Linked DNA regions of Homo sapiens. The protein of the gene in region 7 purifies or fractionates together with the protein of the main gene of each other region. This does not show direct contact. Each region holds a gene or a part of one and is shown on either strand. Other genes may lie near its edges. The genes, in order: HNRNPUL1, ACAT1, SON, UTP14A, SEPTIN7, ATF1 and SAFB.

Region 1 (4,122 bases), about 36 Mb from region 7:
AGCATCAGTGAACATCTCAGAGAATGTCCAGCCCAAAGTCCTCCTTGCCTAAGACCCCAAAGTTGGTGGATATGAAGCAAGTAAGCAAGAGTTTTTTTTTTTTGTTTTTTTTTTTTTTGAGACAGGGTCTCACCCTGTCCCCCAGGCTGAGTGCAGTGGCACAGCTAGGGCTCACCGCAACCTCAAACTTCCAGGTTCAAGCAATCCTCCCACCTCAGCCTCCTGAGTAGCTGGGACTACAGGCATGTTCCACACCTGGCTAATTTTTAAATTTTTTTGTAGAGACAGGGTCTTGTTATGTTGCCCAGGCTGGTCTTGAAATCCTGGACTCAAGTGATCTTCCCACCTTGGCCTGCCAAACTGTTGGAATTATAGGCTTGAGCCACTGCACCTGTCCTAAAGCAGGTAATTTTAAGAAGCTCCAAGTATTTGAGTCTTGTGCCTAGACTGAGATGAAGACGAAGGAAAAGGTGGTCCAGTCCTGTCCTGAAAACTGATGAGGAGACAGGTGCAGTGGCTCACGCCTATAATCCCATCACTTTGAGCAGCCAAGGCAGGAGGATGCTTGAGGCCAGGAGTTCAAGTACAGCCTGGGTAACAGAAAGAGACCCCATCTCTACAAAAACAAACAAAAGAAACCCAGAAAGGGCAGTCTATGAATATAACAGATGAAGGAAAGCCACCGCAGGGCCTTTTCGAACTGAGTTCAGCTTGTTCAACATGTTCCCTGAGTTCGTACTCTTTCTGATACACATGTCTGCATAATCTGGGACCGACAGAGCTTAGCGACCAGTGGGGAATGAGACAAGGACACTCTATCATAATTCAGTAAGATGACCTACCTAGAAGCAAGTTTCTGAGGTTTCTCAGTTGCTTGTATATAAGCCTAGCAGTGACAGAACACAAGGTCAGATTGGCTGAGGCATAAAAGATGAGGGGGAAGTAATTCAGGAACAGCTGAAGAGCCATGCAGGGACCACATTCATTTATTCTGTAACAACTACTTATTGAATTGCTAAAGTTAGTAATTAAGATCCCCCCTCTTTTTGTTGAGACGGAATTTCACTCTTGTTGCCCAGGCTGGAGTGCAATGGCGCAATCTCGGCCCACCACAACCTCCGCCTCCTGGGTTCAAGCGATTCTCCTGCCTCAATTAGCTGGGATTACAGGCATGTGCCACCACGCCCGGCTAATTTTGTATTTTTAGTAGACGGGGTTTCTCCATGTTGGTCAGGCTGGTCTCGAACTCCTGACCTCAGGTGATCCACCCGCCTCAGCCTCCCAAAGTGCTGGGATTACAGGTGTGAGCCACTACGCCTAGCCTATGATCCCATTTTAGAAGGTGGATGGCTTCAGTTCTACCATTTACTAACTTGTGGCCTTGGTTAAGTTATTTCATCTTGTTTCTTTATCAAAAAAAGGGGGGCGGGGTAATAATATTTTATACAGCCTATGTTTATTCTAACTGTTAAATGGGCTAGTACATTTAATACACAGTGAGCACACAAGGAATGTGAGCTATCACTGCAAAATGTCAGGCACTGTGCTAGAAATAAGGGGCTGGGACTGAAGTGGTGGGAGGGGACACGGCCTACCTCGGCATGTGAGGGACTCTAATTTACCGCAGGAATTTGAACTTGATGCTGGTGGCAGAGCAGAGTGTCTGACTTATTTTGAATAGAGGAGCAGCCTGCTCAAAACTGTGTTTTGGAAACATTGCTTTGGCTGCAGGATACGAGAGGCTCTTTTTTTTCTTAGTGTTTTTTTGCCTTTTTAAAATTTATATTTTTAAAACGTTTGTTAAATATTTTTCTAAATGCCCATCTCAGAGAAGAAAAGGCTCAAAACTTGAGATTAGATAGCAGACTGAAGCAAAATACACGGTTCGCTTTCTGATATGAAAGTATAATTTCTTTCTCTATTCAGGTGACCACCTTGGGAATTGCCCTTCAAGAAGCGACAGAAGCACCCTCCCTTGAGGAGCTTCCTCATTAACCTCCTCAGTGCTCACAGGGCACAGCTCTGTGTCAGAGGCCCTCATGCCTGTTCATCTCTAAGCATGCACCCACGTCAAGACCATGGAGAGCGGCTGGATGTGGTGGTTCACGCCTGTAATCCCAGCATTTTGGGAGGCCGAGGTGGGCAGATCATGAGGTCAAGAGATCAAGACCATCTTGGCCAACATGGTGAAACTCCGTCTCTACTAAACATACAAAAATTAGCTGGTCATGGTGGCGAGTGCCTGTAATCCCAGCTACTCAGGAGGCTGAGGCAGGAGAATCACTTGAACTAGGGAGTTGGAGGTTGCAGTGAGCCGAGATCATGTCACAGCACTCCAGCCGGGCAACAGCAAGACTCCTTCTCAAAAAAAAAAAAAAAAAAAAGACCATGGAGAGCAGGTATGACTGTTGGTGTTAGTTAGCCTTCCTTATGGCCACCAGCTTCACTATAGGAACTTCCCATAATGCACAGAAACCGGCGCCCTCAACCAACCCATCTACCACCAACAGAGCCATCTGTCCAAAAGGCAAGTGGAGTTGTGTTGTTGTTCCTGCTGAAACACTCCTGTGTCAGTCCCAGGCCTAAAGACCCAAACTCCTGAAGCCTGGCATAATTCAGAGCCTGCCATTTTTATAGCCTGGTGTCTCACACCTCTTTCTGTTGTCCCTAGGCTCTAAGTATCATACTCTTTATGGTTTGCTGAAATGGGTTATTCTGTTCTCCACTTGGAAGGCTGTTTTACCTTTTTGTTTTGCAAATTGAGGACTTGATATTTGACACCAATGTCCTCCCCTCTTGTTCCAGGAGACCAATGATTTTTACACCCCCACCAACTCCTCACCCTGAGCCTTTTTAAAGTTGTGGTATCTTCTGAACAAAGAAAACTATATAAGGAATCTTAAGACTGGATGCAGAGATGTTCTGGTTGAAGCAAGAGTCAAGGCCTAGAGTTCCATACTGCCACATACCAAAAGAACCTCATACTCTGAAAGAACAGACTTTGGCAAACACTGTCACACAGTGACAAGTTAAATTACTGCAACCTGTTTGGAGTGTAGTCTTGGTGGTAGCTATGAAAATTTAAAAATATACCTTTGACTTAGAATCTAACTTTCAAGAAGGAATACAACTACATTCCCACAAGAATGCAAAATTCTATGTGCAAAATGCTCATGCCAGCACGGAAAATGTGCTCCAATGGGGAAGTAGGAGTGGCTAAATTGCACAGGAGATCCATATGTGGGGCTACAAAAAGATCTCCAAGTTACTCCAGTAAATGGAAAAAAGACAAGCCGCATTTATCTGTTCCAGGAAACAACTTTCACAGCCACTAACAGGAAGACGGGCTAAATTAAAGCAGGGTACCCAAACCCCTGCATCAGAATACTAGACAGCCATTACAGTCACTAAATACAAAGCTGCAAAAGTAACGACATGTCCACCAAAGGGAGGCGCTAGGTTAAATCAATTATGGTACAGTCATACAATGACTACAGACAATATAAAAGTACAAAGAAGCTCTCTTGGTAGTACCATAAAAAGATCCCCACCAAGGCCGGGCATGGTGGCTCACGCTTGTAATCTCAGCACTTTGGGAGGCCAAGGAGGGCAGATCACCTGAGGTCGGGAGTTCGAGACCAGCCTGACCAACATGGTGAAACCCTGTCTCTACTAAAACTACAAAATTAGCCGGGCATGCTGGCGCATGCCTGTAATCCCAGCACTTGGGAGGCTGAGGCAGAAGAATCACTTGAATCTGGGAGGCGGAGGTTGTGGTGAGCCAAGATCATGCCATTGCACTCCAGCCTGGGCAACAAGAGCAAAACTCTGTCTCAAAAAAATTAAATAAATAAAAAGACCCCCAAGACATACAAGTTAAAAAAAAAAAAAAAAAGATGAAACCCCGAGTACCAGTGGGTTCACATGCTGGGGAGGGTATATGTGAAAAATGGGTGGGGCGGGAGGGGGGGTGTCTAAAGAAGACTTTACACTGTATCCCCTTTTACATTCCTCGATTTTTTTTTGGAAACCCTATTCTTGAAAAAATCAATTCACAATGATTAACTATTAAGAAACAACTTTAACTGAGCTAGATCTATATATTGTCTGTGTGGACAGGGA
Region 2 (4,122 bases), on a different chromosome or scaffold from region 7:
ACCTCTGCCTCCCAGGTTCAAGCAATTCTCCTGCCTCAGCCTCCCGAGTACCTGGGACTACAGGCATGCGCCACCACGCCCGGCTAATTTTTGTATTTTTAGTAGAGACAGGGTTTCACCACGTTGGCCAGGCTGATTTTGAACTCCTGACCTCAGGTGATCCGCCTGCCTCGGCCTCCCAAAGTGCTGGGATTACAGGCATGAGCCACTGCACATGGCCTCACCTTACTTTAGTTCTCTTTGGCAAGAAAGGTTCTCCAGGTTACCTACAGTGTCTATTTGCTTGTCCTCACCTCCTCTTTACAGTTCAACCCACTCAGATCAGGATTTTATTTCTGCCAGTTTACCACTGTTGGTTCTGAGCAACATCAGCAATGTCTGTGTAGCAAAATCCAACTCGCTATAATTGTCTCACTTAACCTTTTAACACATCAGCAAGACTGGGCTCACCTTTCTTTGAGAAATATGCTGAGCAGTTAAGAGCCTGGGCTTACCAGCTCAGTATTCTTTGTTTGTTTGTTTTGTAGAGACAGAGTCTCACTATCTTACCAAGCTGGTCTCAAACTCCTGGGCTCAAGCGATCCTCCTGCGTTGGCCTTCCAAAGTGCTGGGATTACAGGCGTGAGCCACTGTGCCCTGCAAGCTGAGTATTTTTGAGCAAGTTACTTAGACACACTTACCTTGGTTTTCTTAAATACCCTCCACAGGCTGTTATGAGAATAAAATGAGGTAATATGTATAATCCACTGCAGAAACCCTTCCTTGTCTTGGCTTCCATTACAAACGTGGACTCCTTCCTACCTCATTAGTCATATTTACCTCAGTCTCCTTTACTATCTCATCTTCCCCTTCCAACCTCCAAGTGCTGAATGTCCCAGGGCTTTGTTCCAGGCCTCTTTTAATTTAACTTCACTATATCCTTAGTTATATCCAGTCCCATGGCTTTAAAAAGCATTTATGAGGCCGGGCACAGTGGCTCACGCCTGTAATCCCAGCACTTTGGGAGGCCAAGGCAGGCAGATCACGAGGTCGGGAGATAGAGACCATCCTGGCTAACACGGTGAAACCCCATATCTACTAAAAATACAAAAACAAAATTAGCCAGGCGTGGTGGCGGGCACCTGTAGCCCTAGCTATTTGGGAGGCTGAGGTGGGAGAATGGTGTGAACCCGGGAAGTGGAGCTTGCAGTAAGCCAAGATCACGCCACTGCACTCCAGCCTGGGTGACAGAGTGAGACTCTGTCTCAAAAAAAAAAAAAAAAGGCTTCTATGTGCTGATGATTTTCCAAATTTCTATCTCCAACCCTGACCTTTCAACTGACCACCAGACTCACACCCAAGCGCCAACCTGACAGCTGCAGGTGAATGTCCAAATCATAGCTCTCAATTTCCAACCCTAGAAAACCTGTTTGTGGCCAGGTGCAGTGGCTCACCCCTGTAATCCCAGCAGTTTGGGAGGCCGAGGGGGGCGGATCACGAGGTCAGGAGTTCCAGACCAGCCTGGCCAACATGCTGAAACCCCGTCTCTACCAAAAATACAAAAAAATAAAAATAAAATAAAATAAAAAAATAACAGGGCATGGTGGCACGCGCCTGTAATCCCAGCTACTCCAGAGGCTAAGGCAAGAGAACTGCTTAAACCCGGGAGGTGGAGGTTGCAGTGAGCTGAGATTGCGCCATTGCACTCCAGCCTGGGTGACAGAGAAGACTCCATCTCAAAAAAAAAAAAAAAAAAAAGAAAACCTGTTTGTTGCCGGTATTCTCAGGTGCTCAAGCCAAAATCATCCTTCATCCTTCCCTTTATTGCAATCCCTAAAATCCAGATACTGTGAACAGCGTCCAAAACATAACTAAATTCGTCCACTCTGCCTCATGTCTACTGCTGCCACCTAGTCCAAGCCACCATCTCTTGTTCCTATTAATGGCCTTCTACCTAGTTCCCTGCCTCCCCTGACACCTCTCTACAGTCCCTCCAGCTTTGAAAAATGTAAATCAGATCATATCACTCTACTGCTTAAAATAATTTAACAGCTTTTCATTGCTCTTGGAATTATATACAAATTCTTTACCTCATCCTCCAAGAACCTGCATGATCTGGCTCTAGGTTTTCTCTCCAAATTTACATCACTCTTGCTCTGTGCCAGCCACTGGCATCTCTTTGTTCTAAACCCTATCCCGATACCTCAAGGTCTCTGCAGTGTGCCTCTGCCAGTAATAGTCTCCTCAGGCCGGGCCTAGTGGCTCATGCCTATAATCCCAGCCCTTTGGGAGGCCGAGGCAGGTGGATCACTTGAGATTAGAAGTTTGAGACCAGCCTGGCCAACATGGTGAAACCCCGTGTCTACTAAAAATACAAAAATTAGCCAGGTGTGGGGGTGGGCACCTGTAGTCCCAGCTACTTGGGAGGTTGAGGTGGGAGAATCGCTTGAATCCAGGAGGCAGAAGTTTCAGTGAGCCGAGATCGCGCCGCTGCCCTCTAGCCTGTGCAACAGAGTGTGATCCTGTCTCCAAAAAAATCAAAAACAAAACAAAACAAAAAGTCTTCCCAGCTCTCCATGGCTGGCTCATTTTTATTCTTCATGTCTTTTCTTTTTTTTTTTTTTTAGACGGAGTCTCACTTTGTCACCCAGACTGGAGTGCAGTGGCGCGATCTCGGCTCACTGCAAGCTCCGCCTCCCAGGTTCACGCCATTCTCCTGCCTCAGCCTTCCAGGTAGCTGGGACTACAAGCGCCCGCCACCACGCCTGGCTAATTTTCTGCATTTTTATAGAGACAGGGTTTCACCTTGTTAGCCAGGATAGTCTCGATCTCCTGACCTGGTGATCTGCCCGCCTCAGCCTCCCAAAGTGCTGGGATTACAGGCGTGAGCCACCACACCCAGCCTATTCTTCATGTCTTTTCTAATGACACATTCCCAGAGTGGTCCACCCTAACTACTCTATTTAAAGTTACCCTCTACTTTTTCCTCTCTTTTATATGAATATCTTTATTTCCTTCAAAGCACCTCTTACACTGTAAGTATGTGGTTCACATCTTTGTTTTATTATCCACCCCTCCAACATAATACAGGCTTCCTGATGGCGGGATGGTGTCTCTTGCTCACTGTTACATCCCTATGACTTAGCACAGTGCCTAGCGCTCCTTCAATATCAGAAACGAATGACAAAATTATAGTATGGTCAGGACACTGAACCATATAGTGTATAATAATACATGCTGAATGAACACAACCCATTAAGTTTTATCTACATAACACAATTATCTTTCAGGGAGGGCTCAGCCATGCCAGGCAGAGGTCAGCACTCCTATCTCAGCTTCCACAACGCCCGTGCACATTCTAATTGTTCCAGAATATATAATTTTGTAACCCTCAGGTGGCTTTTCTCCTCACTAGACTGTGAATTCCAAGAAGAGACTGATTTTATTTATTTTCTATCCCAGTGATGGCAGCAGACACAAAACAAATATTTGAAGACAGTCTGAAAGTTACCAATAACTCAGAGAAACAAAATTTCAGCTACAGTAAATGTTATGAAACCAGCAAAATTGATCATGAACTAGAGAGTAACTGACGGCCTACTTTACATGGGAGAGTCAAAAAAGGCCTTCTAGCAATGTTAATGGAGCTGAGAAATGAATGTTAAAGAGTCATCCTTGGAAAGATCCAGGAAAAGAACATTTGAGGCATCAGGAACACGTAGGACTAAGGCCACGAATTCGGAACAAAATTGGCACACATACTAAGTATAGAAAGAAGGGTCCTGTGGCAAAAGCAGAGTGAGCACGGCAGCAGCTGAGGCCACAGAACTAAGTAGGGCCCAGCAGATCATAAGGGTCTAGATTCTGGCCTATGGGCAATGACAAGCCACTGAAAGCTTTTATGTTATAAAAAGACCACTCTGGCTGCGGGGGAACTGAGTGTACTAGGGTAAGATTAGAAAAAGGGAAGGGGGCCAGGTGTGGTGGCTCACACCTGTAATCACTTTAGGAGGCTGTGGTGGGCAGATCATCAGAGGTGGATCACCTGGTGAGCTGGTCAGGAGTTCGAGCCCATCCTGACCAACATGGTGAAAGCCCGTCCCTACTAAAAATACAAAAAGTAGCGGGTGTGGTGGCACATGC
Region 3 (4,122 bases), on a different chromosome or scaffold from region 7:
TTGGGAAGGTTTCTTTATCCTGTTGTACTCCTGACTCCTTGTGTAATCATGGGCAAGTAACTCTTTGGAATTTCAAAGTCTCTGAGGTGTCTAGTGGTAATCAGTAACGTGATGGTTACCTATAGAGAGTTGCTATGAGTGCCAGTGAATGAGCTGAATTTCTGAAAAATGAGACATTGGTTGCTTTGTGTATTTTAATCTTGTAACATTTATTTCAATTTTGATAGCTTTATCTTTGTTGATCTTACTAACAAATTAATATGAAACATCATGTATACTCATTATGCCTGCCTTTTTTTGGGAAGTAGTTGCACTGATGTGTATAGTGAGTACACAGTTAGATTCATTAAGAAATTACAATTTCTGCAGTTTGCTGAGGGTTGGTGTTAGAATAAAGGGTGAAAATGTATATAGCAAAATATTTTAAAGATTGGATTAATCTTGGACTTCTATATTATAGTTACTATGAAAGTGATTTATATAATATTTGAAAAAATGTCTTTCATCTTTGGAAGAACTATAAATGTACATCTATTTCTTTAGTTTTAATTCTTTAATACTATTTAGTCTTGAAGCTAAGTACTCAGCCAGTATTTCAGGAAGTTAGAAATAAAGCTTATGGGTGTTAAAATAGGCACATAATACAGAGTCATGTACACTGCTAGGTAGAAACTTCTGAATGTGCTTCCATTACAAAATTTTGGTCTTTATCTAATGATGTGCTGATCCATAATGTTTGTATACTTATAAATGTGTTAATAACTTAAATAACTTTTAAAAAGTGAATCTTTTACTGACTCAATTGGTTTTCCCCTAAAATAATTTCTTCTGGTATTTGCAGTCTTGTAGGCAGTTAACAGACTTTAATAACTTTAAAATGTTTAGTAGCACCTTGAAAAAAGGCTTCAACTTTATATTTTATGTAAGATATACTTTGGGAAGCAAATTATTTTGATAAATTATGAGATAAAGATATGTTCAGACCAAATTTTAAATTATAGATAAAAGTAGCACTTAAAGGAAAAGATTCATTTGTATAGAATTACTGAAGAATATTTGATGCTAGTATCAACTAAAAAAGAAACTTTTGAAAATTAAAAATGGGCCACAACATGTAGAAGTCATTAGGCAGCTGAAAATTTAGGATGTATGATCCATGTTAAATATCACAAATATTGTCTACTCATTAAATGTTTAGTTGTGTTTAGAAAACCTGTCAAACGATCATTTTGGCTCTTCTTTAGTATAGTCCAGCATCTGCCTTATGTGTTAAAAAACACATGGAATACCAACATCCTCCGTGTTCTTTTTAGTTTGTTGCAGTGTATTTTTAGATTACAAAAAAAGCAAAGTTTTATCAGTAGTCTCATTAATCAGTAAAACATTTAAAGTAGTTCGTTTAAAAGAAATTTTATTTCTAGAATGGAATGATTTGGATGTGACCTGATAAATACAGTTTGTTATTGTGGTCTCATTAAATTAATCAGCTTTTTCACACTGGGGTAAAGAAACAGATGATGATACTAGGGAATGGAAACAAAATTGGAAACCTGGGTTATTTGGGGATTTATATTGTACTCTGCACAGTTGCCCTTTTTTTTAGGCGTGTTCCCTGGAAAAGAGGGACGGATGAACCTGGAAGTAAGTAAAAGACATTCTAGGTGTGTAGCATCAAGGCAGTTAATATCCAAGCATCAGCTTTCTCTTTATACATCTACACTGCATGGCCTGCACCAAATAAGGAACTGAACCAGGGGTATGTTTTTACCTCCACAGCTGCCTCCTTCCATCAGAGCACCTTGATGAACTTAATGTCTAGTCACACGTCATTGGCATGTTTTCTCCCCAGCATTTAATTACAAAGCTGGGAAACAAAAGATGATAGATACAGTTTTACTACTGCATACAAACATTTCTTTTTTACATTCAGTATTAACTTATCAATATAGGAGATGTGCATACTATTTCCTGAGCTACTGAAGTTTTTTTACTCTCTCTGTTGATAAGTTAATGACTTTTGCTATATTATATATTTATATATATATATATATATATATTTGGTAAGAGAACATAAAAACCTAAAATTTAGTAACAAGGGGAAAATAAAGCATGATTTGGAGATATGTTTCAAATTTTTAAAAAATGACCATAAAGATCAACAGTACAACTTAATACTGTTTGCTATATGTACATGGATGCCCTTTAATAAGAGGCATTGAATATTTCTTAACCTGTAAAAATAACTGTTGACCATGCTAATGTATATATACTTGTGCATCTTAGGACATTAAGTGGTTTGCTGCTTTGATGGAAATTATGGTTCAGTGGGTTGGATACAAGAGAGATGACTGTTCACAGAATAACCTGTGAACTTTCACCCCTCTGTATGGAAACTTGTTTCAGGGCCAAATCCTTGTAGCTGTCTTCTTGCCCCGGTCAGTGCCAGCCGTACTATTCACAACACTGCTGCTACCGAGGCCTAGGTATGTAAACATTTAAGGAGTTTTTTAAAAGTCTTTTAACATCAAGCTAGGTTTTAAAAGAATTCAAATTCATTTTGGCATACTTACAGGATATTTTATGTGATTGTTTTCTATTTGTTACTGTGTAAATTTCAAGAGTTTTTTTTTTTTTTTCTGCTTTAGGGATTTTCTAAGTAAAATATTTATACTTGCTTTATAGTAGAATGGGGAAGAAAACTTTGGATGACAACAGTATGCTTCTTCAGTGTCTAAACTATTTCTAAGTGATTTCTGGGCTTTATTCATAAACTAGGTACACCTGGGACAATTAATATCATTGATTGTTTTAACATTGCCTTCTTTTTATTTTGCAAGCTAAGAAGAGATACCAGTGAACCTAAATAGTGGACGAAAACAGGAGTGTTCTAATTTTTTTTTTTTGAGGGGGGCACGAGGGCTACTGTTTCAAAACTGCCATTTACTTGTCTTATTTGACTTCCAAAATACTATTACGTTAATGTGCAAATAATCAGAACATACACACTACAGTATGTATAAAGTATAGAGGAATTTACATTTAATTGCTATAACAGATCTAGAAGTAAAGTAAGATTCCTCTTTTTAGAAAGTAAACAATGAATCTGTCACCAAGTTCTAACTGTAAAATGGGGACATTTTACCTTTCTTTCTTTGGATAGGATCAGTTCTTAAGAGCAGCCCCGGTAACTGGAGGAATGGGAGCCGTTTTGATGAGAAAAATGGGCTGGAGAGAAGGAGAAGGATTAGGAAAAAACAAAGAAGGCAATAAGGAACCCATCCTAGTTGATTTTAAGACAGACCGAAAAGGTAACAAGTTCTTTTTTGGAATGTTTATTAACGTCTCCTTTAACATTACCTTTAATATATCCTTTTGAACCCAGTGATACTGAACTGAAGGCACTTCTTGTATATATACAGGTATTTGTCAGAAAAAACATTAACCCCTTTTGGGGTTCACAGAGCAGCTTATTTTTATATAACTATGGATAGAGACACCAGTTTGAACTTTTAAAAGGCACCTTTTGTTATGCTAGTTGCTAAATATGGAAATGTGTATATATCTAATTTTATTATTACACCTCCAAATTCAACTGGATTTCATGTTTAGAAAACAGGATTTCCATTTTATTTTCTCTTGACAAGGAACCATCCTTTTTTCTAGAGTTTAGTTTATTTTTTGTTAGATATTTTAGCACATCTTCATTATTTCCTATTACAATACTGGTTTAGTCTAGATTTCATAAACCCTGTTTGCTTTTTTCTTCCAAGCTCAGTAGTTAAGTTGGGTTAGAGTATAGTAGACCAGCTGCTGACAATAATGTTACTTCTTCCTGTTGCCTTGTGTTAAGGCATCTTGGAACTGTTAGCATTGACTGTATTTTCCTTTTACCTTCAGATACCTGGGCAGGGCAGCACTGTGTCTTCTATGTAGCTTGTATGTAGTTGCTAAGTATTTAATCATTCCCACAGATGATAGCTAATTGGCGTCTTTTAAATAACTTCTTCCCTTGGAATAATGTAAGTGGAATCATGAGAGGCTTGCCAGCTCAGTATGATTTTTGTATAGCTTGTTTAAACCTCATTTATAAAAGCTGACAAATGTAAAACTGGGATTTATTTT
Region 4 (4,122 bases), on a different chromosome or scaffold from region 7:
GGAAAGGTTCAATGAGGGCCTCGATTAGGGCAGTGAAAATGAAAATGAAGAGAAAATAGGAGCATAAGGGCTATTACAGAGACAGAATTTGCAGGTCTAGCCCCCTGTATAAGCTGGCGGAGAGGGAGACAGTGAAGGGGTCAAGAAGGAATCAAATGACTGAGGTTTCCAACCTAAGTGACTGGGGTAGGGAGTTATGCTGTTAACTGAGTTGCAGAATGAAGGGGGTGGTATAGGTTTTGGAAGTCTGGGGAAAGGAAATGCGAAGCTTACTTTGGACTGGACTAAGTTTAAGGTGCATATGGGGGACCCAGGTGATCCCTGCTAGTCACATGGAATATGAGACTGGAGCTTCAAAGAAGGGGTTGAGAGTGATAGTCGAAAGTTATGAAATTTTCACTCCTGTAATCCCAGCATTCTGGGAGGCCGAGGTGGGCGGATCACGAGGTCAGGAGATCGAGACCATCCTGGCTAACACGGTGAAACCCCGTCTCTACTAAAAAATACAAAAAATTAGCTGGGCGTGGTGGCGGGCACCTGTAGTCCCAGCTACTTGGGAGGCTGAGGCAGGAGAATGGCGTGAACCCGGGAGGTGGAGCTTGCAGTGAGCCGAGATTGCACCACTGCACTCCAGCCTGGGCGACAGAGCAAGACTCCGTCTCAAAAAAAAAAAAAAAAAAAAGTCATGGAATTTACAGAGCAAGAATAAAAAGGACTAAGGAAAGCCAGAGAGAGAAAATACCCAGAGTATATCACAGAAGCTAGAGGGGAGAGATTTTTAGAATGAAATGTGCCAATGGTGTCAAATATGCTAAAGACTAAGAGGGCTTGGGATTTGGCAATTCGGAGGCCCCTCACTAATGCCTTTTGAGAGAAGTTTCAGTAGGGCAGTAGGGGAAGAAGGTGAGAGAGAGGAGGCAGCAGTGGAGACAGACCAGCTCTTCCCCAAACACATTTCTCATCAGATAACAAGATTTGCCTCCCCTGTTAAAAGCTTAAAATTCAATTTTTTTGAAATTTTAATAAAATCAGTTTGTACACCCTAAGTTAAATTAGATCCAACAGGTGTCTTCACCATTGTTTCATAGCCTTTTTTTTTTTTTTTTTTTGAGACAGAGTCTCGCTCTGTCGCCCAGGCTGGAGTGCAGTGGCACGATCTTGGTTCACTGCAAGCTCCGCCTCCCAGGTTCATGCCATTCTCCTGCCTCAGCCTCCCAAGTAGCTGGGACTATAGGCGCCCGCCACCGTGCCCAGCTAATTTTTTATATTTTTAGTAGAGACGGGGTTTCACCGTGTTAGCCAGGATGGTCTCGATCTCCTGACCTTGTGATCCACCCACCTCAGCCTCCCAAAGTGCTGGGATTACAGGCGTGAGCCACCACGCCCGGCCCATAGCCTTTATTTTTATTTTTTATTTTTGAGACAGAGTCTCACTCTGTTGCCCAGGTTGGAGTACAGTGGCCCAACCTTGGCTTACTGCAACCTCCGCCTCCTGGGTTCAAGCGATTCTGGTGCCTCAGCCTCTTGAGTAGCTGGGATTACAGGCATAAGCCACCACGTCCAGCTAATTTTTTAATATTTTTTAGTAGAGACGATGTTTTGCCACGTTGGTCAGGCTGGTCTCAAACTCCTAACCTCAGGTGATCCACCCGCCTTAGCCTTCCAAAGTGCTGGGATTACAGGCGTGAGCCACCACATCCGTCTGGCCTGTTTCATAGACTTTAAAATGCTAAAGCATGTTGTGACTCTCCGATCTCCAGTAGGGGCATGCAGCATTTTCTAGCAATGCCTCCTCTCCTCCTCTTGTGAAGGCATAATGAGAGACTAAGGTTTCAAGGAGAATGCCTTGGGAAATACCACTGTAGACAGAGAATAGTGAGGAGAGGGGTGAAAGAAGTTACCTCACAGCATTTCTAGCACTTTGCAGTTTACAAATGCCTTCTCATGCATTATCCCACTTAATTATTTGCAGCTAAACAAAATTTTAGGGAGCTGGACCAAAACTATAGTACAGACTTTCGATTTTCTTTTCTTTTTTTTGGGGGAGGGCGGGGAAAGAGTAGAGGGTTTTTTTTTTTCCTCAGGCTGGAGTGCAGTGGCGTGATCTCGGCTCACTGTACCTTCTGCCTCCTGGATTCAAGAAATTCCCCTGCCTCAGCCTCCTCAGCAGCTGAGACTACAGGCATGTGCTACCATGCCCGGCTAATTTACATATTTTTAGTAAAGACGAGGTTTCACCATGTTGGCCAGGCTGGTCTTGAACTCCTGACCTCAGGTGATCCACCTGCCTCAGCCTCCCAAAGTGCTTGGATTATAGGCGTGAGCCACCGTGCCTGGTCTGAGACTTGATATTCAGTTTCTAGAAATCCTAATACAGCATATACTAGTTGTTGGTACTTTGCAATCTAAGTTGTAAGGAGAGACCTAGGAGTTGCTAGCCACAAAGCACCCTCTGAACTAAGCACTTCCTTATTTCTCTGTGCCCTACTAGCATAATTTCTCAAAAGTCAGTCTTAGAATGAATGAACGGCATGGTATATTCAATGTATGACATCTGAGCCTCACTCTATCTTGAAGAGGTTGTTCTATTCTTAGTGTAACCTCCTCCACTACCATCTAGTTTTTATTTTTTATTTATTTATATATATATTTTGAGACAGAGTCTCATTCTATTGCACAGGCTGGAGTGCAGTGGCACAATCTCGGCTCACTGCAACCTCCGCCTCCCAGGTTCAAGTGATCCTCCTGCCTCAGCCCCCCTAGTAGCTGGGATTACAGGCACACACCACCATGCCCCGCTAATTTTTGTATTTTTAGTAGAGATGGGGTTTCGCCATGTTGGCCAGGATGGTCTCAAACTCCTGACCTCAGGTGATCCACCTGCCTCGGCCTCCCAAAGTGCTGGGATTACAGGCGTGAGCCACCACACCCGGCCCCATCTCGTTTTTAATAACAAACTTGGCATTTTCCTGCTATCTCCAAGATTACACTGTCATTTGGAAAAAGCAAGGTGGAGGACAGTGTGTAGTAGCATGCTACCCTTCTTTTTATTTAAAAAGGAGGTAAACATGAATATAGAAATAAAACTCTAAGACAACAACAACAGCAAACTTATGCAAGTGGTTACTTCTGGGTGAGTATGGGGGTAAAAATGATCAGATGGGGCACGGGTGGAATCAAACTTTTCACTACATATCTTCTATGCTTTTTTATTTTTGAATCCTACAAATTGTATTACCTCTGATTTTTTTTTTCTAAAGTCTCCCTTCATCCTGCAGCCACACTTTAAACCTGATCTCTTTTTCATGTAGAAAAGGAAGCCTCCTAGAAAGAGAATGGTAGTGACTTCAGCAAAAACATCAGAAACAGCTTATCCCCATAATAAGCAACTACTCGCTCAATTTCTAGCTATTGTGGCAAGCAATGTTTACTTTGATTAGCTTTAATTAGCTCAACTTCCCAACGCCTAAGAAACTACCATTCTTGGGTTTTTGGAAAGTAAAGAGGAGAAGCACAAAGAGGGCATCTATTTAAGACTAATCAGCCCATTATAGACTCCATACCAATGGTGTATTGGAAAAGTAGGCTAGCTGTTCTAAAGCAGTTATTCGGACTAAAAACCGGACTTCAGGGACCAACATAGGATTTCCAACTTCTAATTTTGCCAAGAGCATAACTACCATTTCACCCCCAATCCCATCATTTACTACCACCATCATTTCATAGAAGAAAAGATATTTCAACACCATTAAAATAGAATAACCTCATAATAAAAAAGAACTGGCAACATTACACCCACCAAACAAACATACTTAGAATTATCCTTTTGCTTCAGACACAAACTTTGTTAGGGGTCAGTGTTTGGGAAACCCAGCTCTAAAACATCAACCCCTGCCCTGCAGCTCAGAGTCATAGTAAGTTACCTGCTGAAGTTCTAGTCATTGCCAGCAACACATTATATTTTAATGCGGTATTCCTGTACAAGCAAAGTTTGGCTTCTGTTGTTCACATATCCTCACTAAGGCATCATTAATGTTATCGAGTTCCTGATTTCCCTAGGATCAGAATGTGGCTTTAAATGCTTTTTAAAAACTGGGGTAAAAGAAAGAAAACATTATTATG
Region 5 (4,122 bases), on a different chromosome or scaffold from region 7:
GCAAGACCTTGTCTCTTAAAAAAAAAAACGAAGTTCAAAAATAATAGCAACAAACAGATAAAACAATCAAATCTCAATTTTGGTTTCAGCTTACTATAATACAGAAGATTAAGTATCAGATTAAACCAATACAATAAACCTATTGCCAAGAGGAAGTACTTCTGAGGCTTGGTGTTATAACTAAGATTTTATTGGTATTTAAAACTCCTTACTTAACCCTTAATAATTTAAGATAGCAGGTTAAAAAAGAAAACAAAAAACTCCTTACAAAACTAGTAAAGAGGATCTCTTATTAACGAAATTTTTTTACTCTAAATATGAGATATCAAAAAGGGCAACTTTTGCACTGAGGAAAGAAGACTGTGGATGTTTTAACTGGGCTTACAAATTTCTTCAATCATTCTTGAGGGTCCATGACCATCTGACGTTCCGATAAAAGTGACTGGCCTTCTCTCCAAATGTTTGATTCCAGGTGGTTCATTAGATTCCCTGGGAGCAAACTTTGGGCCCCAGGTAAAGAACCCCTCAATTTTAGTTATGTTTTCAAATATGAAAACAGAAATAGACTTAATGATGAGGCAGGATGCCAGCCAGGGTGGGGCAAGTTGAGTATCTCTTATTTGAAATGCTTGGGACCAGAAGTGTTTTGAATTTTTTTGGAATTTTGGAATATCTGTGCTATACTTACTGGTCGAGCATCCTTAATCCAAAAATCCAAAATTCAGAATGCTCCAGTGAGCGCTTCCTTTGAGCAGCATGTCAGTGCTCAAAACGTTTTATTTTGGAGCAATTCACATTTTGAATTTTCTCTTTAAGAATGTTCAACCTATACTACAACTTTAGGACTTAACACACACTTGCCTGACTTGGTAGGATACAGGTTTGAAAAATACCAATGTACTTAAAGAGAAAATTGAGACTACAAGAACCTGAAATCAGTATTATCCTTGAAAATCTAGACTATATCAATACAGTGTGCATACTGTACTACTTACTATAAATACAAATTTTTAATCAGTTTTGAGATATTTTAGAAAGTCATTCACTGAAGAAAATCTTACCTTCAGCAACACCCCAAGGATACTGCCTTCCTCTGACCCTTTTGCCATTAACTTCAATGATAGTATTACTACCTACCACAGCAAGAGGTAAACGGTCCTATAAAACAAAGTATTCTTGTTCAAATACATCTCTGTAGTCCTCACAAATTCAAAAATAAAAAAAGTTACATTACTCAACAGGTTAGCCAAAAAAAAAAAAAATTTACTTTCGATAGTTTCTGCATTAGTTTTTATAGGCCATTTAACAAATATTTAGTAAACTGCCATCACATGGTATTGCCACCAAGGTAAACAATAAATAAAATTAAATTTTCTCTTTAATGTTAAGAATATTCAAGCATATACTGGTCAAATTATTTACTAAAAATCACTACAGAAAGTTGTCCCATACCTGGGGGGGGATAAAAGGTAAAAACTATATTGGCATTTGGGGGAAAAAAAGCGGGGGGCTAATGACTAGCTTGCCTACTTGATCACAAACCAACTATAACAGTACCTAAACCAGGTAATAGTATATTTGTTAAGCTCTAACTTTGGAAATTCAAATCCTGGTGACTGGATTTGTGTTCATCCATGTTCAGCCCTTCACAATTCTGTGGCTCCCAGAAATACCTAAGCAGCTATTTACAACTGCAGAAATTCTTCACAGGCAATGTATAAGAATTTCATTATTCCAAGATATTTGCCTACATAATGCCATTATTCAGTATACCATTTTTAGGGCCAAAGTACATAGAAAACCATGATAAAATACAGAAAATATGTTGATGTGAATTTTTGGTTGGTTTTTATTGTTTTTAATTGAAACATAATTGTACACATTTGTGGGGTACAGTATGGTATTCTGATAACTTTATACAAATATGTAATGATTGAATTAGGGTAATTAGCATATTTATCAATTCAAACTTATTTTTCTGTATTGGGAACATTCATAATCCTCTTCTAGCTATCTGAAAATATAGACTAAATTACTGTTAACTACAGCCACCCTACAATGCTACAGAACGCTAGAACTTACTCCTCCTATCTAGCTGTAATTTTGGTTGGCTTTTATAGAGACAAAATAAATACATTTTTGTCTGGCAATTAAAACATAACAGAACGAATTCTCTCCTTTCTCATCACTTGTTTTTTAAGAGAAAAAAATTACATAATATGAAAGCCAGTTAATTAAAAACACTTTGAAATAAGAATTGTGTTATTCACCTCAGTAGTTTATACAATTCCTTATTATATATACTAGCTAATCTTCAAAGTTAACTATAAAGTTGAATTCAACATTAAATCTCCCTAGGTATTTTGTAAGCCAACTACTTAAAACACTGATACTTTTGATCTTTCCTGTGGACGCTGTAGTATGTTTTTAAGGCCTCAGATTACTTTAGCGTGTGTACAGGGATGAACCTACCTTTATCTTTTTAACAAGTTTATTTTCTTCTTCATCATCTGTTTCTGGAAATTCGTATATTTTAATTTTATGTTCTTGGATTTCTTTCATTATCTAAAATGGAAGAAGTAGTCAGCAAAAGAGCACCATACATAATTAGTATATTAGTCTTATGTTCATTACATGCCTCTTCGATTCCTATATGGGTCCTTGGTTCCAGATCCTTTACTGTTTTTTAATGATGCAAAGTTGTAATCTAAAATTAAAGTACTACGCTAGTCTTTTTTTTTTTTTTAACTATGAAGTTGATATATAAACACCAAATCCAATTACTTCCGAAGTGTTAAAGTCATATAGCTGTCATACCAAAAGAGTTCCAAAAAGGATGTAAAACTCCAGAAAGGGATTTCTCTGATTGATTTCCACAATAATGACTTTAGGTCATTTATTTACAATGACTGAGATTCTTCCTTTAGATATAAATTCCCAAGTATCTTATTTAGTTGAATAAACAGGGCTAAACTCACGTAAAATTTTTAGTAGAATCTGGCAAAAGTAAGGTAAAACTAAGTACAGCACTGCTCCCTGAACATTCATCAGAAAAATCCTTACATGTACATGTGCATACACACAAATTGAGGAGCAACAGGTGTAAGATTAGGGAAGGACACAGGGAGAAAACACATCCTAGAAATTAAGAAGCTCAAGAATTAATAAGGAGAATGCAGAAACCTAGAGAAGACAACTTATTATTAACATCAGAAATGACCTAGTTCAAATTAAATTATCATGTTCAAAATCACTCCAATTCTAAACAGAATACAGACATCCAAATAATTTTCAACTACCTATCCTTATTTGAACCCATAACAAACCAATGGCTAATATACCTAAACCTAGCTTCCCTGTCTATACTTATATTTTGGTGCAACTTTCTTGGCAAAGGTTCCCAGCAGCTATAAAAGGACCCTGAACAAATTGTGTTACATGGTTACTATAGTAGACAGAAGTAAACAGAAGTAAAATTGTCACTGAAAAAAAATAGGACCACACTTCTTTTACAATTAGGGTACGTACCTATATTTAAAAAAAAAAAAAGAATAAACAAGGAATTGACAAATACATGATGACGAGAAAAATGAGTAATAGTAGCTAGCTCTAAAAGCAATGGTTTTAGTCAGAGGTTGTATATTAAAATGACCTGAGTACAACCACCAGGATGTGACCAATTTGAAAGAAGAGGTCACTTCATATTCATCTTTTTTACCTTTATCAGTAAAAATCCAAATCGAAACACATAATAAACAAAAAGAAATGTATTATATGATAGTGTTTGAAACTTAGAAATAGCACATTACAAAACAAAAATGGGAATGGGTAAGTGTAAAACACAAAAATACTAGATACAGTAAAAACAATGTACTAAAACTTTCTGAAAATTAGTATGAATTTAGCACAACTTCAAAGCAAATTTTAACAGGCTTTTTATAACAGGTTTCAAGGTATTCTGAAATTCATATTGAAAAAGGTGAAAAACAAAGTATTTTGTTACAATAGGACTATATGGACAATAGAGATAATTACAATCTACTTTTAAATATTATATAAAGCTGCTGTGGTTTAAACAATATACTACTGGCCTTTGGACTACTGGAATAGAGAAAGGTTCCA
Region 6 (4,122 bases), on a different chromosome or scaffold from region 7:
GAGACTCCATCTCTAAAAAAAAAGAAAAAAGAAACTACTTAAGTGTATACTTCAGGAAGAAGAAAATGAAAGGAATATAAATGTGAGAAAGTATGGTGAACAAAGACAATTCATTTCAGTTAGCATTGGCTTTTTAGAACAATAGTAATAATGATTAATTTGGGTAGTTTCATGGTTGTTGTTTTTTTTTTGAGATGGAGTCTCGCTCTGTCATCCAGGCTGGAGTGCAGTGGAGTAATCTCGGCTCACTGCAAGCTCCGCCTCCTGGGTTCATGCCATTCTCCTGCCTCAGTCTTCCGAGTAGCTGGGACTACAGGCGCCCGCCACCACACCTGGCTAATTTTTTGTATTTTTTAGTAGAGACGGGGTTTCACTGTGTTAGCCATGATGGTCTCAATCTCCTGACCTCGTGATCTGCCCACCTTGGCCTCCCAAAGTGCTGGGATTACAGGCGTGAGTCACCATGCCCAGCCTGAACCTGAGATTTCTTTATTAAGTAGGGGTCTCTCAGGAAGGCTATAACATCTGAAAAGAAACTTCTCAAAGTTAAGCTTTCTGGATTGCCACAGATTAGTATAAATCAAATACGAATTCACTCAAAAATCATCAAACGTGCAAGGACATAAACCACGTAAGTGAGAATTGGCAGAAACAATACAGTCAACTCAATAAATGCTGGGAAAAAAAGTATTTGATTAAATCCAGCACCTCATACATTTCTACCAAAAATGAATAAAAATGGGCTTCCCTAGCATATGTAGACTTTTAGAACTTAACTATGTATAGGACAGATCACCATTGCCCAAATTCTAGACTGGCCACTACCTGGTGCACATGTGTAATAGATATGAATAGCATTGCAAAGACTTTGGAAACTGAACTGACATTGGAACCACAACCCACAGAAGGCTGATCAGAACTTGTGGCCTGGACACAACCAGATTGATACCTTCTAAAACAAGAATATAGTCTAGGTCTGTGGCTCATGCCTGTAATCCCAGCACTTTGGGAGGCTGAGGTGGGAGGACTACTTGAGTCCAGGAATTTAAGACCAATCTGTGTAACATAAGGAGATCCTGTCTCTACAAAAAATACAAAAATTAGCTAGGTATGGTGGTGTGTACCTGTAGTCCCAGTTACTCAGGAGGCTGAGGGCAGAGGATCACTTGAGCCCAGGAGGTTGATGCTTCAGTGAGCCATGATTGTGCCATGCACTCCAACCTGAGTGACAGAACGAGTCCCTGTCCCAAATACACACATGCACATGCAACAAGAATATAAAACATTTTTTATTAAACAAGACCCAGAGTCTGATAGCATAATATTCAAAGAGTCCAAAATTACTTGGTATCAAAGAACAAGGAAAAATCTCAACTTGCACGGGAAAAGACTGTTGACAGAAGCCAACTCCTAGATGATACAAATGTTGGAATTATATGACAAGGACTTTAAAGAAGCTATTATTAAACTGTTCCAACAAGTAAGTGAATTTTCTTGAAATGAAAGGTATAAACTCTCGGCCAAAAATAGAGCATATAAAGAGAATAAAATAGAGATTTCAGAGCTAAGAAACACAGTAACAGAGATAAAACCTCATTGGATGGGTTCAATAGTAGAATGGAAATGAGAGAAAAAACGATCAACTTTGAAGATTATTCAATGGATATTATCCAATCTGAACATAGAAAAGAGATTGGAAAATTATCTAATTCTCAGCGACCTGTGCGACAATAATTAAAGATCTAAGATTTATGTCATTAGAGTCTCAGAAAGAGAGGAAAAAAGTATAGCGCAGAAAAAATACTTGAAAAAATAATGGCTGAAAAATTACCAAATTTGGTGAAAGACGTAAACCTACAGGTTCAAAAACCTCAGCAAACTCTAAACAGGATAAACACAAATAAATCATTGCCCAGACTTACCATAATCAAACTGCTGAAAGCTAAAGTTAAAGAAATCTTGTGAGTAGCCAGAGAATAATGGCACATTACTTACAAGAGAACATTGTGAATGACTACAGAGTGCTCATCAGAAACTATGGAGGTGAGAAGATAATGGAATAGCATTTTTAAAGTGCTAAAAGAAAAAAGAATTATCTCCTGGGTCTTGGCACCCAAAATTCTATGTCTACTGAAAACATCCTTCAGACTTGGAGGTCAAATAAATATTCTCATCAAGGGAAACTAAGGGAAATAATTGCCAGCAGACCTGCTGTAAAACAACTGCTAAGAAAATTCTTAAGACGAAAGAAAGTTAAGGAATGAAGAAACAGCAACAGAAATATCTGGGCAAATATAATGGACAGTTCCTCTCCTATTGAATTCTTTAAAATAGGGGTCCCCAAACCCCAGGCCGTGGATTGGTACCTGTCTGTGGCCTATTAGGAACCAGGCTGCACAGCAGGAGGTGAGCAGCGGGTGAGCGAGCCTTAGCACCCAAGCTCTGCCTCCTGTCAAATCAGTGGCATATTAGATTCTCATAGGAATGTGAACCGTGTTGTGACCATGCGAGGGATCTAGGTTGCATGCTCTTCATGAGAATCTAATATCTGATGATCTGAGATGGAACAGTTTCATCCTGAAACCATCCCCTGACTTCCCTATCCATGGAAAAATTGTCTTCCACGAAACTGGTCCCTGGTGCCAAAAGGGTTGGGAACTGCTGCTTTAAAATATATTTGATGGCTGGGCGCGGTGGCTCATGCCTGTAATCCCAGCACTTTGGGAGGCTGAGGCAGGTAGATCACCTGAGGTCAGGAGTTTGAGACCAGCCTGACCAACATAGCAAAACCCCGTCTCTATTACAAAGATAAAAACTTAGCTGGGCATGGTGGCAGGCGCCTGTAATCCCAGCTACTCGGGAGGCTGAGGCAGGAGAATCACTTGAACCTGGGAGGTTGCAGTGAGCCGAGATCATGCCACTGCACTCCAGCCTGGGCGACAGAGCGAGACTCTGTTTCAATCAATCCATCAATCAATTTGATGGCTGAAAACAAATTATGAAATTCTGATGGGGTTTTTAATGTGTGCAGAGGTAATATATAAGACATCTACAACATAAAGAGGGAAATATAAACAGTTCTAATATGGTGGTAAGGTTTCTACATTCCACCTGAAGTGGTAAAATAGTGATTCTATGTAGACTATAAAAAGCTAGGTATCTATATACCCCTAGAGCAACTACTAAAAAAAAACTACACAAAAAGATTTAGTCAAATATACAGTTGCTTAAAAATTAAATTTTGAAAAGTCTTCAAATAATCCAAAATAATGCAGGTGCAGGAACACAGAAGAATTTTAAAAACAGAATAAACAGAAAGCAAATAATAAAGTGGAAGATCAGCCAATACTGAAGATGGCCTACACTCACCAATTAAAAGGCAATTGTAAAACTAGACCAATATCCTTCATGAATATAGACACAAAAAATCCTCGACAACATATTAGCAAACCAAATCCAACAACATGTAAAAGGTAGTATATGCCATGACCAAACAGGATTTATCCCTGAAATGCAAAATTGGTTTAATAATTGAAAATCAATTAATGTAATACATCATATTAATAGAATCAAAACAAAAAACATATGATCATCGCAAGACACAGAAAAAGCATTTGACAAAAATCCAGTTACCATTTCATGATAAAACTGCTCAACAAATACATAGAAGGCTGCTTCCTCAACCTAATAAAAAGGGTCTACGAAAAACCCACAACTAACATCCTAATAAGAAAATAATGTGGATATCCCCTCTCACCACTTCTAAACATTGCACTCAGGGAATTAGTCAATAAATTAAATAAAAGGCATCCTGATTGGAAAGGACTAAGTAAAACACTTTGTACATGACAGTATCTTATATATACAAAATCCTAAAGAATTATTAAAATAGAACTAATCAACAAGTTCCAGCAAGGTTGTAGGATATAAGATCAATATAACAAAAATCAACTGTATTTCCATATACTAGCAATGACTAATCCAAAAATGAAACTTAAAAACAATTCTATTTACAATAACAAAGTATAAAAGGTTTAAAATTAAATTTATAAATTTAAATTATACTTAGATATGAATTTAACAAAAGAAACAGAACACATATACTGGAGGCCAGGCACAGTG
Region 7 (4,122 bases):
GAGTGTGGCACACAGAACCCCAGGGTCAAGGCTAAAAACAGCTTCAGAGTAACTGTTTGGACTGACAGCCAAGACTAACCCCAAATAATCCCAAATTTCCATTCCACAAACCTAGACTTTTCTAGTGCTTTACTTTTCTCTTTCCTCATTTTGCCTCTTGCTCAAAGAAAGGGCAGGAAGAAGGCACGCTGAAGGGAAAAGAACCCATTCTATGGGAAATTCTGTGGCTACCACTGTAGCTTCAGACTTACCTGTCCTTCTCGTTCTCCCATCATTGACCTTGAACCTTCTCTCCTGAAAAGGCAATTTAAATCAAACCGTAAGGGGAAGAAGAGGCTTGTTCACAAAGAGAGGACCATCAGGCCCCCAATGAAAAGCATAATTTCCCTAACTGAAGGCAGGAGACCTGCGGGTCTGACTCAGCATACATCTGATGAACGGAGTGGGTTCAGAGAGCCCAGGAGTCCTTGTTCTCAGTCAGAATGAGCCAGGAAAAAGAAAACCCGCACGCCCAGCAGGGGCCCAACTGACCTGTCCACCGAGTGGTCGGGGTAGCGGCCGCGGTCCCTGTGGTCAAAGTCGTGGAAGCGGTCCTGGCGGTTAAAGTCAGAATGGTAGCGCTCATCCAGGGCGGCCCGCTTGGCTTCCGGCCAATAGGCATCATCTCGCCTGTGAGGGGACATGAGACAGAGATAGAGGGATCCCCCACCCCAAATGTATCTATCACCTTTGTGGGAGCTGGCCCCTAGCACTTCACAGAACCAGGATGACTTTCACCAAGAGTGTTCTCTCCTATAGGAGGCAAGGTCTGATTTGACCCCAGTGACTGCACAGTTGTTTTGTTTTGTCCCATGCACCCACCTCCCCTGATGAAAAGCGGCCTCGGTTTTCCAAAGAGGGAGCCATTAGTTAAGCAGTCAGTCCTATGGGCTGCCTGCAGATGGCTTCTGGAGCCCTACACAGCCACCTCCGCTCAGGAAGACCACGTGAGCCTCCACCCCGAGGGGCTCTGTCAAGTGCACCTGCCATCTCTCTCGCCCCAAAGCTGACCTCCTGCCCTGCCAGCAGCCCTGGCCATGTACTGCTGCAATACACAGATGACCATAATGAACTGTCATCAGAAGGATTTCGTACCAAAGCATAATAGATCCTAGAACAGTTTACAAGGCCCTTTATAGAAGTTGCATTGTATATATGACCTGGGCTCCTCTTCAACCCATGCAATAGAAAGAAACAACAAACAGCAATTTTTGCCAGGTTGCAGTGCACGTGTAAAGCCTGACACAATCACTGCTGGAATTACACACCTGACTCCTCACAGCAGCCATGCTCAGCATTTTGTGTTCATACCTCCTCTTCAGTATGTTTGAGAAATTAAAATTAATCTTACTGCCGGGCGTAGTGGCTCATGCCTGTAATCCCAGCACTTTGGGAGGCCAAGGTGGGTGGATCACCTGAGGTCAGGAGTTTGACAGCCTGGCCAACATGGTGAAACCCGGTATCTACTAAAAATGCAAAAAATTAGCCGGGTGTGGTAGCACATGCCTATAATCCTAGCTACTTGGGAGAGTGAAGCAGGAGAATTGCTTGAACCCAGGAGGCGGAAGCTGCAGTGAGCTGAGATCACGCCATTGCACTCCAGCCTGGGCAACGAAAGCAAAACTCCGTCTCAAAAAAAAATTTTTTTTTAATTCTTTATTTCTAGAATAAGCAAAAACAAATTACAATGGATTTAAAAAGCCAGGACAAGGCCGGGGGTGGTGGCTTACGCCTGTAATCCCAGCACTTTGGGAGTCTGAGGTGGGTGGATCACCTGAGGTCAGGAGTTTGAGATCAGCCTGACCAACATGGCAAAACCCCATCTCTACTAAAAAAAACAAAAATTAGCCGGGTGTGGTGGTGGGTGCCTGTAATCTCGAATACTAGGGAGGCTGAGGCAGGAGAATCGCTTGAACCCAGGAGGTGGAGGTTGCAGTGAGCAGCGATCGCGCCATTGCACTCCAGCCTGGGCAACAGAGCGAGACTCTATCTCAAAAAAAAAAAAAAAGGAAAGGGCCTTAAAGGAGGTGCAGTAGGGCACGTGTGGCGCTCTCTACGTGCCTGAGCTTCCCTCCTCAGGAGGTCTGTGCCACCCTTGAACCTGGTTAGTTAACCAGCACTACTTTATCCAGCCTCCTGTCTCTAATTTTTTTTTTTTGAGACCGAGTCTCACTCTATTGCCCAGGCTGGAGTGCAGTGGCACGATCTTGGCTCACTGCAACCTCTGCCTCCTGGGTACACGCGATTTTCCTGCCTCAACCTCCCCAGTAGCTGGGATTACAGGCGCCTGTCACCACGACCAATTTTTTGTATTTTAGTAGAGACGGGGTTCTGCCATGTTGGCCAGGCTGGTCTTCAACTCCTGAGCTAAGGCAATCCGCCCACCCTGGCCTCCCAAAATGTTAGGATTACAGGCGTGAACTAGCGCACCCGGCCTATGCTTCCTTTGAATGAAAGATCTCAAGCTGGCCGGTCGCGGTGGCTCACAGCTGTAATCCCAGCATTTTGGGAGGCCGAGGCAGGTGGATCACGAGGTCAGGAGATAGAGACCATCCTGGCTAACACAGTGAAACCCCGTCTCTACTGAAAATACAAAAAAATTAGCCGGGAGAGGTGGCAAACGCCTGTAGTCCCAGCTACTCGGGAGGCTGAGGCAGGAGAATGGTGTGAACCCGGGAGGCAGAGCTTGCAGTGAGCCAAGATCGGGTCACTGCACTCCAGCCTCCGCGACAAAGCAAGACTCCGTCTCAAAAAAAAAAAAAAAAATCTCAAGCTAACTGGACTGTGAGGTCCCTAACACGATTCTGAACGCCACGTGCTAAGGGCAGCATGGATCTGCTTACCGGTCCAGGTCGTAGGGCCGCCGCACCGCGGGCCGCCGCTCCTGCTCATAGCGCAGTTCCTGCTGGCGCCTCAGCTCCTCGCGCTCACGGTGGATGCGCTCCTGCTCGCGCCTGCGCTCGTGCTCCACGTGCATGCGTTCGCGCTCCAGCCGTTCCCGCTCCATGCGCTCCCGCTCCAGCCGCTGGCGCTGGAAGGCCAGCCTCTCTCGGGCAATCTCCAGCCGCTCACGCTCCTCGCGCTCCCACTGCGCCTGCATGCGTTGTTCGCGTTCACTGCGTTCACGCACCCTGCTGCACAACAGTAGAGCTGCAGAAGGGGACCTAGACACCCCCAGCCAGGTCCCAGGGCTGACTTTAAGTAAGACGCTGGGTCGCACAGACTCCAGGGCTGTGCGTCCACTACGTGGTCTGCAGAACCGTACACTCCAGCGGGAAGAAGGCTTCTCGGGCCCACAGGAGCAGCCCAGGAAGATCTCAGGAGTGAGGCCCAGGCTGTGTGTGTGTGATCAGAACTGGGCCTCCTTTCTCCAACATTTCCTGGAGCTTGACAAGTGATTTCAGGAAACAGCCAGTCAAAAATAAGCAACAGGCCGGGCGCGGTGGCTCACATCTGTAATGCCAGCACTTTGGGAGGCTGAGGTGGGTGGATCATGAGGTCAAGAGATCGAGACCAGCCTGGCCAACATGGTGAAACTCTTGTCTCTACTAAAAATACAAAAATTAGCTGGGCATGGTGGCACGCACGCACCTGTAGTCCCAGCTACTCCGGAGGCTGAGGCAGGAAAATCACTGGAGCCCGTGAGGCAGAGGTTGCAGTGAGCCACTGCACTCCAGCCCGGCAACAGAAAAAAAAAAAAAAAAAAAAAAAAAAGCCACAGAGTATATGCTTCATAGCGAGTGAGTGTGAATTGGAACCTTCACTCCCTAGACCACAGGATGAAATGAGTCTTTGTGAGGTGGGGCTAGCAGGCCCCCCAAGTGTAAGGACATTAGCAGCTGTATCTTTTGGATACAGATGACATTTTAGTGCATTTCTCCAGTCTTTGTATATAAAACAGAACAGACAGGAGCCAGGCTGTCTTTTTTTTTTTTTTTTTTTTTTTTGGTAGAGATGGTTGCCCAGGCTGTTCTCGAACTCCTGAGCTCAAAACAATCTGCCCGCCTCCACCTCCCAAAGTGCTGGGATTATAGGCATGAACCACTGTGCCCAGGCTCAGATTTTCTTCTTTCGATCCTTTAC

Evidence for each region.
Region 1: the proteins of SAFB (region 7) and HNRNPUL1 fractionate together in Homo sapiens (co-fractionation; one large-scale study listed by BioGRID). This does not show direct contact.
Region 2: the proteins of SAFB (region 7) and ACAT1 fractionate together in Homo sapiens (co-fractionation; one large-scale study listed by BioGRID). This does not show direct contact.
Region 3: the proteins of SAFB (region 7) and SON fractionate together in Homo sapiens (co-fractionation; one large-scale study listed by BioGRID). This does not show direct contact.
Region 4: the proteins of SAFB (region 7) and UTP14A fractionate together in Homo sapiens (co-fractionation; one large-scale study listed by BioGRID). This does not show direct contact.
Region 5: the proteins of SAFB (region 7) and SEPTIN7 fractionate together in Homo sapiens (co-fractionation; one large-scale study listed by BioGRID). This does not show direct contact.
Region 6: the proteins of SAFB (region 7) and ATF1 purify together in Homo sapiens (co-immunoprecipitation; one large-scale study listed by IntAct). This does not show direct contact.

What each region holds. Positions count from the first base shown.
Region 1 is NC_000019.10:41,287,976-41,292,097, reverse strand, and holds part of HNRNPUL1 (heterogeneous nuclear ribonucleoprotein U-like protein 1), read right to left. Parts: intron 1-4,122.
Region 2 is NC_000011.10:108,124,407-108,128,528, reverse strand, and holds part of ACAT1 (acetyl-CoA acetyltransferase, mitochondrial isoform b precursor), read right to left. Parts: intron 644-4,122; exon of another isoform or gene 550-643; intron 1-549. UniProt on the Homo sapiens protein: This is one of the enzymes that catalyzes the last step of the mitochondrial beta-oxidation pathway, an aerobic process breaking down fatty acids into acetyl-CoA.
Region 3 is NC_000021.9:33,570,148-33,574,269, forward strand, and holds part of SON (protein SON), read left to right. Parts: intron 1-2,403; exon of another isoform or gene 2,404-2,483; intron 2,484-3,160; coding exon 3,161-3,308; intron 3,309-4,122. UniProt on the Homo sapiens protein: RNA-binding protein that acts as a mRNA splicing cofactor by promoting efficient splicing of transcripts that possess weak splice sites.
Region 4 is NC_000023.11:129,912,512-129,916,633, reverse strand, and holds part of UTP14A (U3 small nucleolar RNA-associated protein 14 homolog A), read right to left. Parts: intron 4,056-4,122; exon of another isoform or gene 3,943-4,055; coding exon of another isoform or gene 3,924-3,942; intron 3,325-3,923; coding exon of another isoform or gene 3,239-3,324; intron 1-3,238. UniProt on the Homo sapiens protein: May be required for ribosome biogenesis.
Region 5 is NC_000007.14:35,880,927-35,885,048, reverse strand, and holds part of SEPTIN7 (septin-7), read right to left. Parts: intron 2,566-4,122; coding exon 2,473-2,565; intron 1,159-2,472; coding exon 1,062-1,158; intron 1-1,061.
Region 6 is NC_000012.12:50,798,136-50,802,257, forward strand, and holds part of ATF1 (cyclic AMP-dependent transcription factor ATF-1), read left to right. Parts: intron 1-4,122.
Region 7 is NC_000019.10:5,660,569-5,664,690, reverse strand, and holds part of SAFB (scaffold attachment factor B1), read right to left. Parts: intron 3,174-4,122; coding exon 2,883-3,173; intron 670-2,882; coding exon 532-669; intron 295-531; coding exon 252-294; intron 1-251. UniProt on the Homo sapiens protein: Binds to scaffold/matrix attachment region (S/MAR) DNA and forms a molecular assembly point to allow the formation of a 'transcriptosomal' complex (consisting of SR proteins and RNA polymerase II) coupling transcription and RNA processing.